Linked DNA regions of Homo sapiens: region 2 is linked to region 1. A link means that fine-mapping ties the variant in region 1 to the plasma level of a protein whose gene starts in the linked region. Region 1 holds a variant in brackets. A gene starts in the other region. All regions are shown on their forward strands.

The links. PIP is the posterior inclusion probability: the model's chance that the variant is causal. Protein levels are from antibody-based Olink assays in UK Biobank. Linkage for the fine-mapping came from a reference panel and not from the study's own genotypes, which makes the PIPs less certain.
Region 2: it holds the start of PRG3, and the variant in region 1 is fine-mapped to the plasma level of the PRG3 protein (UK Biobank, PIP above 0.99).

Annotation. Positions count from the first base shown.
Region 1 is chr19:39,731,096-39,736,472 of GRCh38, forward strand. It overlaps CLC (Charcot-Leyden crystal galectin), which reads right to left. Exons shown (of 4, transcript NM_001828.6): 2 at 3,902-3,978; 3 at 3,188-3,398; 4 at 160-410. The coding sequence ends at 285. Among named protein-coding and RNA genes, the nearest start is that of CLC, 4.2 kb to the right of the region's middle. The variant G/C (reference allele first, on the strand shown) is at 3,296.
Region 2 is chr11:57,378,741-57,384,117 of GRCh38, forward strand. It overlaps PRG3 (proteoglycan 3, pro eosinophil major basic protein 2), which reads right to left and starts at 2,410. Exons shown (of 6, transcript NM_006093.4): 1 at 2,374-2,410; 2 at 1,908-2,041; 3 at 754-1,067; 4 at 1-72. The coding sequence starts at 1,968. RefSeq lists an enhancer at 599-1,798.

The sequences.
Region 1 (5,377 bases):
TGCTAATGCCTTCTCAGACATTTCAGTGGCCTTTTCACTTACTTTTTGTGTCTCAGGAAGATTTATCCTCCTTGACTTGTTCACACCATCTATAAAATCCCCCAAGCCCTCTTGATGATGACCACTTTTTCTCCCCATGAAAGCAAGAACCAAATTCTGTGAAGTTTGATTAAGTTTTAATGAGCAGGAGTAAGGATTGAAGTGAGAAAAGATCATGCTGTTAGCTGGCTTTGGAATCCCAAGTTCACGTAGAGACAGGGATTCCTTGGCAACATGAAGTCTGGTTATCTCTTTAAATAGCTGACATTAAATTTGGTCAGGGAGATATCTCTCCACACTTGCACCATCTTCACAGCCTCAGGCTTGATTCTATGGTCAAAGGTGTAAGAGGATTGGCCATTGACCATTACCTACAGAAGGAAAAAAATACATCAGAAAGACAGTATTTCACCAAACAAGCTTTCAGCCTGCTCTCTATGGTGTCATAGTACCTGAAACATCCAACCAGAAAATGCCTCATTATATATCTGAACCCAGTAGACACACTTCTTTTTTACAGACTACCTGTTGTAACTATCTGAGACAGTTGCTCACTGTATTTTCAATGTTTCCTCTCATTTCTCCAGTGAGGCTCTGTCACTCTCTGTCACATGGGCCATATTTGCTCAGCCTCCCCTCTATCCTGGAAGATCTCCAAGGCCAGGGACTGTGTTTCATAAACTTGAATCCCTGCATCTTGCACAGGGCCAGCCACAGGGTAAGTGCTCAACAATGTCCACTGAATGCACACATTTCAGTTACATAAATTATGACTGCTATTTGCTGCTGATGACCCAGTTTCTCTCTGGAATTGCTCATATTTGAGCTAGTGGCGGCAAGGAATGTAACTCAAGTGTTCTTAGAGAGGTGGGGCTGGATTAATGTTACAAAACATAGGATATTATCTTTATTTATTTTTTTATGGTTATTAAATTATTTATTTATTATTTATTTTTTTTATTATACTTTAAGTTTTAGGGTACATGTGCACATTGTGCAGGTTAGTTACATATGTATACATGTGCCATGCTGGTGCTCTGCACCCACTAACTCGTCATCTAGCATTAGGTATATCTCCCAATGCTATCCCTCCCCCCTCCCCCCACCCCACAACAGTCCCCAGAGTGTGATATTCCCCTTCCTGTGTCCATGTGATCTCATTGTTCAATTCCCACCTATGAGTGAGAATATGCGGTGTTTGGTTTTTTTGTTCTTGCGATAGTTTACTGAGAATGATGATTTCCAATTTCATCCATGTCCCTACAAAGGACGTGAACTCATCATTTTTTATGGCTGCATAGTATTCCATGGTGTATATGTGCCACATTTTCTTAATCCAGTCTATCATTGTTGGACATTTGGGTTGGTTCCAAGTCTTTGCTACTGTGAATAATGCCGCAATAAACATACGTGTGCATGTGTCTTTATAGCAGCATGATTTATAGTCGTTTGGGTATATACCCAGTAATGGGATGGCTGGGTCAAATGGTATTTCTAGTTCTAGATCCCTGAGGAATCGCCACACTGACTTCCACAATGGTTGAACTAGTTTACAGTCCCACCAACAGTGTAAAAGTGTTCCTGTTTCTCCACATCCTCTCCAGCACCTGTTGTTTCCTGACTTTTTAATGATTGCCATTCTAACTGGTGTGAGACGGTAAACGTTAGACCTAAAACCATAAAAACCCTAGAAGAAAACCTAGGCATTACCATTCAGGACATAGGCCTGGGCAAGGACTTCATGTCCAAAACACCAAAAGCAATGGCAACAAAAGACAAAATTGACAAATGGGATCTAATTAAACTAAAGAGCTTCTGCACAGCAAAAGAAACTACCATCAGAGTGAACAGGCAACCTACAAAATGGGAGAAAATTTTCGCAACCTACTCATCTGACAAAGGGCTAATATCCAGAATCTACAATGAACTCAAACAAATGTACAAGAAAAAAACAAACAACCCCATCAAAAAGTGGGCGAACGACATGAACAGACACTTCTCAAAAGAAGACATTTATGCAGCCAAAAAACACATGAAAAAATGCTCATCATCACTGGCCATCAGAGAAATGCAAATCAAAACCACTATGAGGATATTATCTTTAACAGCGTATAAACATAGAAAAACACCTCTGACTTTAATCTGAATAAAATGTGAATGTTTTGGCCTACCCATTTGAAATGTCAGAAACTTTGATCACATTCTTTATTACTGAGGCTACACAGGGAGTCATATTTTAGGTTTCATTCTCAAATTTAAAATCCATACAACTTTGAACCAGTTATTCCTTTTCTTTATAATCATGTTCCAATATAAATAGGGAAAAGTTGGCAATGAAAAAAGGGTTGATTAGAAAGCTTAATACAGTAACATTTGTGAGAGCAAAACATTGGAAACCAACTCAGTGCTCTTGTAAAGGGTCAAGTACAGCAAGTTGAGGAAATCCTTCTAGGGGAATATTATGTAATCCTTAAAAAAATGAGGCAGCACCATGGATAGATTATTTCTCCAATATATATTCTTTGAGTACAACTCAACTGTCATTCCTAAAGTGTAATGTGTAGGGACATTGATACCAGCATTTGTTTAAAAACAAATAAAAGTGTATATATGGGTGTATGTATATGCTTCTATAAGGATAGACTATGGAAGAAGAGTAGAGAAGCTAGTAATATTGTTCTGAGGATTGGGATTGAGGAGTGAGAAGTCTTCATATTGGACTGACTAAAACAATTTTATTCATGTGTATATCTTATCCATTTAGCTACATGAAAATTTAAATAACATCATAAGGGGAAGATAGAGGATATTCTCCATTTGGGGAAAATGGCAAGTGAACCGACATTGACCCTGGTCAGGTATGGGAAAAGAGCTGAGGATGGCAGTGCAAGGAGAGGTGATGGCAGAGCAAGCAACAACACCTGTTGAATGAGAGAGGGAAATGATAAAAGTAAAGGGAACCCCTGTGTGTGTGATAAAAAGCCTGGGACAGGGGGAGTTATGGGTGATGAAAAGCCTGGGATAAGGGGAGTTGTGGGTGATGAAAAGCCGGGGACAGAGGGAGTTATCTGGAGTTAGGGCATGAAGAGCTGCCTCCTGCTCTGAGATCCCATGGAAGCCGGGTGCGGGGAGCTCCTGGGGTGCTCACCTGGTACTTATCTGGCAGCACTGAGATGCTCAGTTCAAATTCTTGGCCATCCTGAAAGGGCATATTCTTGGATTCCACCTGCTGCTTCCAGGCCCCATACTCACGGCT[G/C]TTCATGACCACACGACGACCAAAGCACACTTGGAAATGGAAGACAATGTCTGATTCCTCCTTCATCTCAGTGTGGAAATCCACCTGCAGATATGGTTCATTCCTGAGGGCAGAGCACACAGTGTTGAGCAGGTCCCTTTCTTGTGGGGCACACACAAGACACACACACAAGTCTCTTTGCCCCTTCCGTGGTCGAGCAAAGACTTGTTGGTATTCTAGGCCTTGTCATTGTGGGGCTGCTTCAGCTCCTTGTGTTCTCCATGGGTGGAAAGAGATGCTCCAGCCCTCATCCACAGATGGAAACTGAGCCATAGTCACTGACTTGGTCATATGAATTGCCCATTTTCTGAATATTCTATGCCTTTTAATAGATAAAGTGTCACAGCCCCAAGCCTTGAGTGTCCTTTACTCCTAGACCCATGACTAGCCCCCAGTGCAGCTGCTGTAGGTTTTGTTCCTGGTGCTGGAGGGTCTCCAGGACCTGCACATTCATGGCACTTCCATCCTGCCAACTAGACTTTCCACATGATTCACACATGAGGTCACCCCCTTAGAAAATATTCTTCCTCTTCTCCACCTCCCATCTTTGCACCATGGAGTACTCACAAGAAACAGGCAAGTGGTCGCCCTTTGATTGTCACAGTAGAACCAGTAGACAAAGAGGCAGCCTCTGTGTATGGCACCTGCCAGGGGATTGAGAGTGGGTGAGAGAGGCAGGGCCAGGTGTGGCCTCCCCTCCTGTAACAGATTCCCATGGTGCAGCCAGTTAGAGATCAAGCAGTAGACTCAGGCCTCCCTGCTCCCACCCTACCTCAGTCAGGACCCCGTATTTTTCAAAACAATGGGGCCCATGGTTAAGAGCAGAGCTTCAGAAACTGAGCTACCTCAATTAGATCCTTTATTGTGCTGACTACTAGCAGTGAGATGTTAACATGTTTTGAACCTTTTTTTTAGACAGGGTCTAATTGAATCACCCAGGCTGTAGTGAACTGGCACAATCACAGCCCACTTCAACCTCAACCTCCCAGGCTCAAGCCATCCTCTCAATTCAGTTTCTTGAGTAGCTGAGACTATTGGTCCACACCCAGCTAATTTTATACGTATTTGGAGAGTTGGGGTTTCACGATGTTGCCCAGGCTGGTCTGGAGCATCTAGGCTCAAGGGATCCTCTTGTCTCAGCCTCCCAAACTCCTAGATTACAGGGGTGAGCCACTTTGCCCAACCAGCAAGGGGACCTTAGATCTATTGCTTAAACTCTCCCTGCCTCAGTTTTCCCAATACAAAGATGATAATCCGAAATACCTACTTTGTATCATGTTTTCAGTTATACAGTAGTTAATAGATGTAAACCCTTTAGCCTAAACCCTGGCACGTATAGGGCCTGTTGGGGGTCCTCTATCTGAACAAGGAGGGTCCTTGTGGAACACTGACCTGCGATCATCTTCAACTCTGAAACTGTGAAAACAAGATGTGAGGATGTAACAGTAGAGAGATTCACTCCAGTAAGAAACAACAACTTTGGGTTAGTTTCAATTTGAGAACAGCTACAAATAATGACACTATAAACATTTCTGTATAGGATTTTCCATAAACTAAAGTGTTTACTTGGCTAAAATCTGGTGAGTAAAGTGTTTCTGTTTGTTTGGTGATTTTATGTTTAATTTTATGGGAATACCAAACGATTTTCCAATGTAGCTGTATCATTTTACATCCCTCCAAGCATCGTTTGACTGTTTCAGGTACTCTGCATCTTTTCTAACTTGAGATTGTGAGTTTTATTTTTTATTATCATTTTAACCACCAAAAAAAAAAAGAAAGAAAGAAACAACACTTGTTGAAAGAGAGAGGGAAACGAACAGGAAAGAACAGGAAACCCCTGTGCGTGGGAGGCACATACATCACAATCATCATGGGCAATGGACGTCCTTCCCAGAAGGGGCACACATTGCTGAGAGCACAACCGCAGTACTTGCACAAATGAAGATTGTGGGTCAGGGAAGTTATTGGCTAGAATCTATAAATGGATGGTATTTTTCTTTTTTGAAACAGGGTCACACTGTCACCTAGGCTGGAATGCAGTGG
Region 2 (5,377 bases), not on the chromosome of region 1:
CTGAATGCGATAGTTGAAGTTGAAGTCATGGATAGAGACAAGGTTGCCTCCGTAGCATCTGCTGCAGACATTCTGCAGACGGAAACAAAGTAGAGAATTCCCTCTCATTTATTTCAAGTTTCTGAGTCTCCAGGCAAGAGCCCGGCATCCCTTTTCAGGTTAAAAATAAACCTACTTGCCTCCCTTAATCCTATCTTTTGCTTCTTAATTAGCTGTCAGGACAATCCTACAGGAAATGATAATACTCATAATAATTATAACCACCGCTTATTGAGAGTTTATTACAGCCCAGTGACTATTCCAAACACTTTTCATGTATTATCTCATTTAATGCTCACCACAACTCTAAGAAGTTGGTGCTATATATCTTCGTTTTACAAATGAAGGTGCTAAAGCTTTGAAAGGCAAAGCAACTTGCCCAGGTAACACAGCTAATAAAAGGCAGAACCAGAATTTAACACAGGCGTTTCTAACACCAAAGCCTTTTGTTTAAATCGGTGGTTCTCCCCAGACCAACAATATCATCATCACCTGGGGATTTGTTGTAAATGCAAATTCTCAGGCTTCACCTCAGCCCTCCTAAATCAGAAGTCGTGCAGGTGAGGCCCAGAAAGCTGTGTTTTAACAACAACTCCAGGTGATTCTGATGCATGCGAGGCTTTGAGAACCACTAGCCTAAATGAATAGGGAACAGAAGACTGAATGTACTCTCTTTTCCCCCAGGTCCTCCGCAGTAGCCTCCCTACTACTTACCTGAGCTTCTGCAAAAGTTTTAGGAGTCCGCACCAATAGGTAGCGGCAGATCTTGCACCTTGGACTTCCCTGCACTTCAACAATGTCTTCTTCCCTGGGGCACTGGAAGTCCTTGTCTAAGGCAGCTGGGTCCGACTCCATGGCTTCCTCATCCTCAAAGTTGTCTTGACAGGCAGAAGCCTTGACCTCCTCTCCCTCTGCCTGAATCACCTCCTCCGTCAGAGCCAAGTCTCTCTCCTGCTCCTTTGAACTATCCAGATCCTGGCCTAGGTCTGCCTGTGTCTCTAGGCTCTCCAGATGGGGGGCATCATTCTCTGGGAAGAAGAGGTAACCTGCCATCAGGTCAAGAGCTTCCTAGTTCCAGCACCGTGGACAGCTCCAGCAACGTCGCTCGAGCTTTCCTAGGAATTCCACCTGAAGACAAGACTGGAGGATTTCCTTGGTGTTAGGTAAGGAGAGATCTCTCGGGTCACACCCACAAATGGACAAGAACCTGACTTCTGGCCGACACCACGAGTGTGTGTTTTGAAGGTGGGAGAAAGCACGTGTGAGAAGCCTGGGGCAGTCACCAGCCCTTCATCTTAACAGGTGGGTGGTTTTTCCTTCTGAAAGTTCAGGTTACAGTTTGCCGGGTGCGGTGGCTCACGCCTGTAATCCCAGCACTTTGGGAGGCCGGGGCGGGCGAATCACAAGGTTAGGAGTTTGAGACCAGCCTGGCAAATATGGTGAAACCCCATCTCTACTAAAAATACAAAGATTAGCCAGGCGTGGTGGCATGTGCCTGTAGTCCCAGCTACTCAGGAGGCTGAGGCAGAAGAATTGCTTGAACCCGGGAGGCGGAGTTTGTGGTGAGCCGAGATCGCGCCACTGCACTCCAGCCTGGGCAACAGAGCGAGACTCCGTCTCAAAACAAAACAAAAAACAAACAAAAAAAAAAACAAAAACAACAACAACAAAAAAAAATCAAACAAAAAAGAGAAAGTTCCAGGTTACAGTTCTGAGTCCAAGTGATATCTTACCGGAGATGAGCTGTATCAGCTAAAGAGGGAAGGCTGTGGTCCTGGCCTCATGAGTGCAAATAAAAGCGGGGGGAGGGGAGTGTAGGAAAAAGGAAAAAAGGGAAAGACGCATGAGGAGGGAAGGGAGAGACTTACCCAGATGAAGAGCAGAAACTGTTCCCAGCAGGAGAAAGGGCAGGAGCAAGAGGCATTGCATATCTACTGTCTTTTAGCGAGGACACTACTCCACCGTCCTTCTTGGGGCTGTCTTTGTGTGTCTAGTATAGCCCCTGGCACATAGTATAGAGGGAATATTTGTTTAATTGTTTGATTAAAGAGCAAACAAGATTGCTTTCTCCTCTTGCCATGAACAGACCCTGAGCTGGAGAGTCTAGAAAAGGAATGGTGGGAGGGATAACTCAGGTACCAAATTTCATTTGTCTTCCAGTCTCCGTTGCTGCTCTCCAGTATCACCCTTAGCCCAGACTCCTGCCCCTGCGGGGACAGGTCTGCTTAGCTATGATGTTCCTAAGGACAGGCCTCCTACGTGTTTGCCCTATGAGGTGCTGCTTCTTCCCAGGGCCTACACTGGTCCTGCCTGGGCAGCCAGAAAAGAACTCACCTTCCAAGAGTCTGAGACCTCCACTCTCAGTGCCTCTGGCTTCAGGGGCCAGAAGCAGCCTTTATACTGGGTTTTTGGGGAAGTGGGAAGAGGCCAGAATGATTGCTCCAGGACAGAGTGGGGGACAAAGGAGCTGATAATGAAGTTTGCTCAGTCTTCTCAACCCTGTGCCCTGCTCTCTGCTGGGACTGCAGGGACCTGCCTCCTGGGGCCTACTGCCTTGTTTGGGTACCCCACACCCTGGTTTGCTTCAGAAGGCCCTAGATGTTATGTCCATTGTCCAGGCATAATTATTATTTATGCCCCCTAAAATGCCCCAGTCTGAACAACACGCCTTAACTCCAGGAGTAGCCTCCTGCTGGTGGAATCCCAGAGAGTGAAGTGGAGATCCCAGGGAGCTGGTGGGAGACAATGGGGGGAAGAAACAAGAGGGGAAAGGGAGGTTCAGTGCTCCCAAGCTCTCACCCATCCTAGGGGCATAGTGTGCAACACACCCCTCACCCTCATCTCCGCATCATCTCCACCAGGTACCACCCCTACTTCACAGAGGCAAAATGTGAGATTCAGAGAAAGAGAGAAGGCAACTTGCCAAGGTTCCATGGGAAGTGGAAGAACTGGAATTTCTAAGTCTTTTTGACTCCAAAACCTTCTCTCTTTCTTTCCTCTCTCTCTTTTTTCTCTCCCTTCCTCTTTCTCATCTTTTTTTTTTTTCTTTTTGAGACGGAGTCTTGCTCTGTCGCCCAGGCTGGAGTGCAATGGCAAGATTTTGGCTCACTGCAAGCTCCACCTCCCGGGTTCAAGCGCTTCTCCTGCCTCAGCCTCCCAAGTAGCTGGCTAATTTTTTGTATTTTTAGTAGAGATGGGGTTTCACTATGCTGGCCAGGCTGGTCTTGAACTCCTGACCTCGTGATCCACCCACTTCGGCCTCCCAAAATGCTGGGATTACAGGCATGAGCCACTGTGCCTGTCCTCATCTTTTTTTTTTTTAAGAGACAAAATCTTGCTCTGTCACCCAGGCTGGAGTGCAGTGCTGCGATGATAGTTCACTGTAACCCTGAATTCCTGGGCTCAAGTAATCCTCCTGCCACAGCCTCCTGAGTCACAGGGATTACAGGCACAAGCTTTCTCATCTTTAATGTGTGAAAAATCTACATCCTTTCTTCTGTGCTGTGGATCTAGATCAAGGTTCCTCAACTTTGTGCTATTAATATGTGAGGTCAAATAACTCTTTATTGTGGAGGGGCTGTCCTGGGCGTTGTAGAAAGTTTAATGGTCCCTCTGGTCTCTACTCACCAGATGTCAGTAGCCCCTCTCCCCACCCCCGCAGATGATCAAAAATGTCTCCACATGTTTCCAAATGTCCTCTGGGGAGAAAAATGGCCCCAGTTGAGGATCTCTGATCTAGGATATGCCACCTTGCCCAACCTCAAGGCATAGCTTCAGGGCTGGCAAACAGGCAGCATGAAAAGCTCCATACAGAGTCTCTCCAGCACTCTGTAGATCATCCTCTCCAACCAACACTCCCCTCCTCACCTCCCATCTCCCACCAGTCTTCTGTCACCCCAGGGTCTGGACTAGAATCAGGCAGGGGAGGCTCTCAACTCAGACACACTAAGAAATTAAGGGGACACTAAGAAATTTACTATTCAAGATAAATAACATTTTAATGCAACATTTCTTAAAAATTGAAATTAATGCAAAACAAAACATCAAAATTTTAACTGACCAAGCTCTAGACAAAATTTGCTGCACTTTAAAGAGAGGCCAGCATGTCTCAAGCCTTGAATTTGCCAGATGTCTCTGCCAAGAGCTAGTGGACTTGTCAGGGTGAACTCAGAGGCATCCTTGTGGGATGCTTCTCAGAACTATGCCTGGCACATGAGTGGAGGGTGACCCTTGTCAATTAAAATGTGCAGATTGGTAGGACCGGGCACGGTGGCTCATGCCTGTAATTCCAGCACTTTGGGAGGCATGTGCGGGTGGATCACCTGAGGTCAGGTATTTGAGACCAGCCTGCCCAACACAGTGAAACCCTGTCTCTACTAAAAATACAAAAATTAGCCGGGCGTGGTGGTGGGCACCTGTAATCCCAGCTACTCAGGAGACTGAGGTGGAAGAATAACTTGAACCCGGGAGGCAGATGCTGCTGTGAGCAGAGATCACGCCACGGCACTCCAGCCTGGGCGACGGAGCGAGACTCTGTCTCAAAAAAAAAAAAAAAAAAAAGTACAGATTTATTCCCCATATTCCACCCCAGCCCTCCATGGCTCAGGGAGCAGGGACAGGCAGCCCAGAGGGTGAGAAGACCTAAATTCCTTCCTCTTCTCTGCTCTTCCAAAAGACCCACAAATGGAGAAGTAACTGAGAGGCCATTTCTGAGTCTGATTGCAGAGTAACGGCCTTGATCACTATCTCCGTAGCCCAACGGACCAAACCCTCCACTTATCTACTTGACTGTAGGAGGACTGGCCAGGTCCAGGACCTAAAAACCTGGTCACTGGATTTCAAGCTTGAGACCTCCCTAGTGGTGGAGGGTGGAGGCATAGACCCCCATTTGCCATTATTCTTCCTCATTCATTGGCCCAAGCCAGGGGTACCATTTCACTTCGTGGCTGGGATGACCAATAAGGTTGGCTACTCTCAGGAACCAATACTACCATGAGCCTCACACTCATTCATTGTTTCTTTTTCTTTTCTTTTTTCTTTTTTTTTTTTTTTTTTTTTGAGACAGAATCTTGCTCCGTCACCTAGGCTGGAGTGCAATGGCATGATCTCGGCTCACTACAACCTCCGCCTCCCAGGTTCAAGCAATTCTCCGGCCTCAGCCTCCCGAGTAGCTGGGATTAGAGGCACCTGCAATCATGCCCAGATAATTTTTTTATTTTTGTAGAGACGGGGTTTCACTATATTGGCCAGGCTGGTCTTGAACTCCTGACCTCAGGTGATCTACCCACCTTGGCCTCCCAAAGTGCTGGGACTACAGGTGGGAGCCACCATGCCCGGC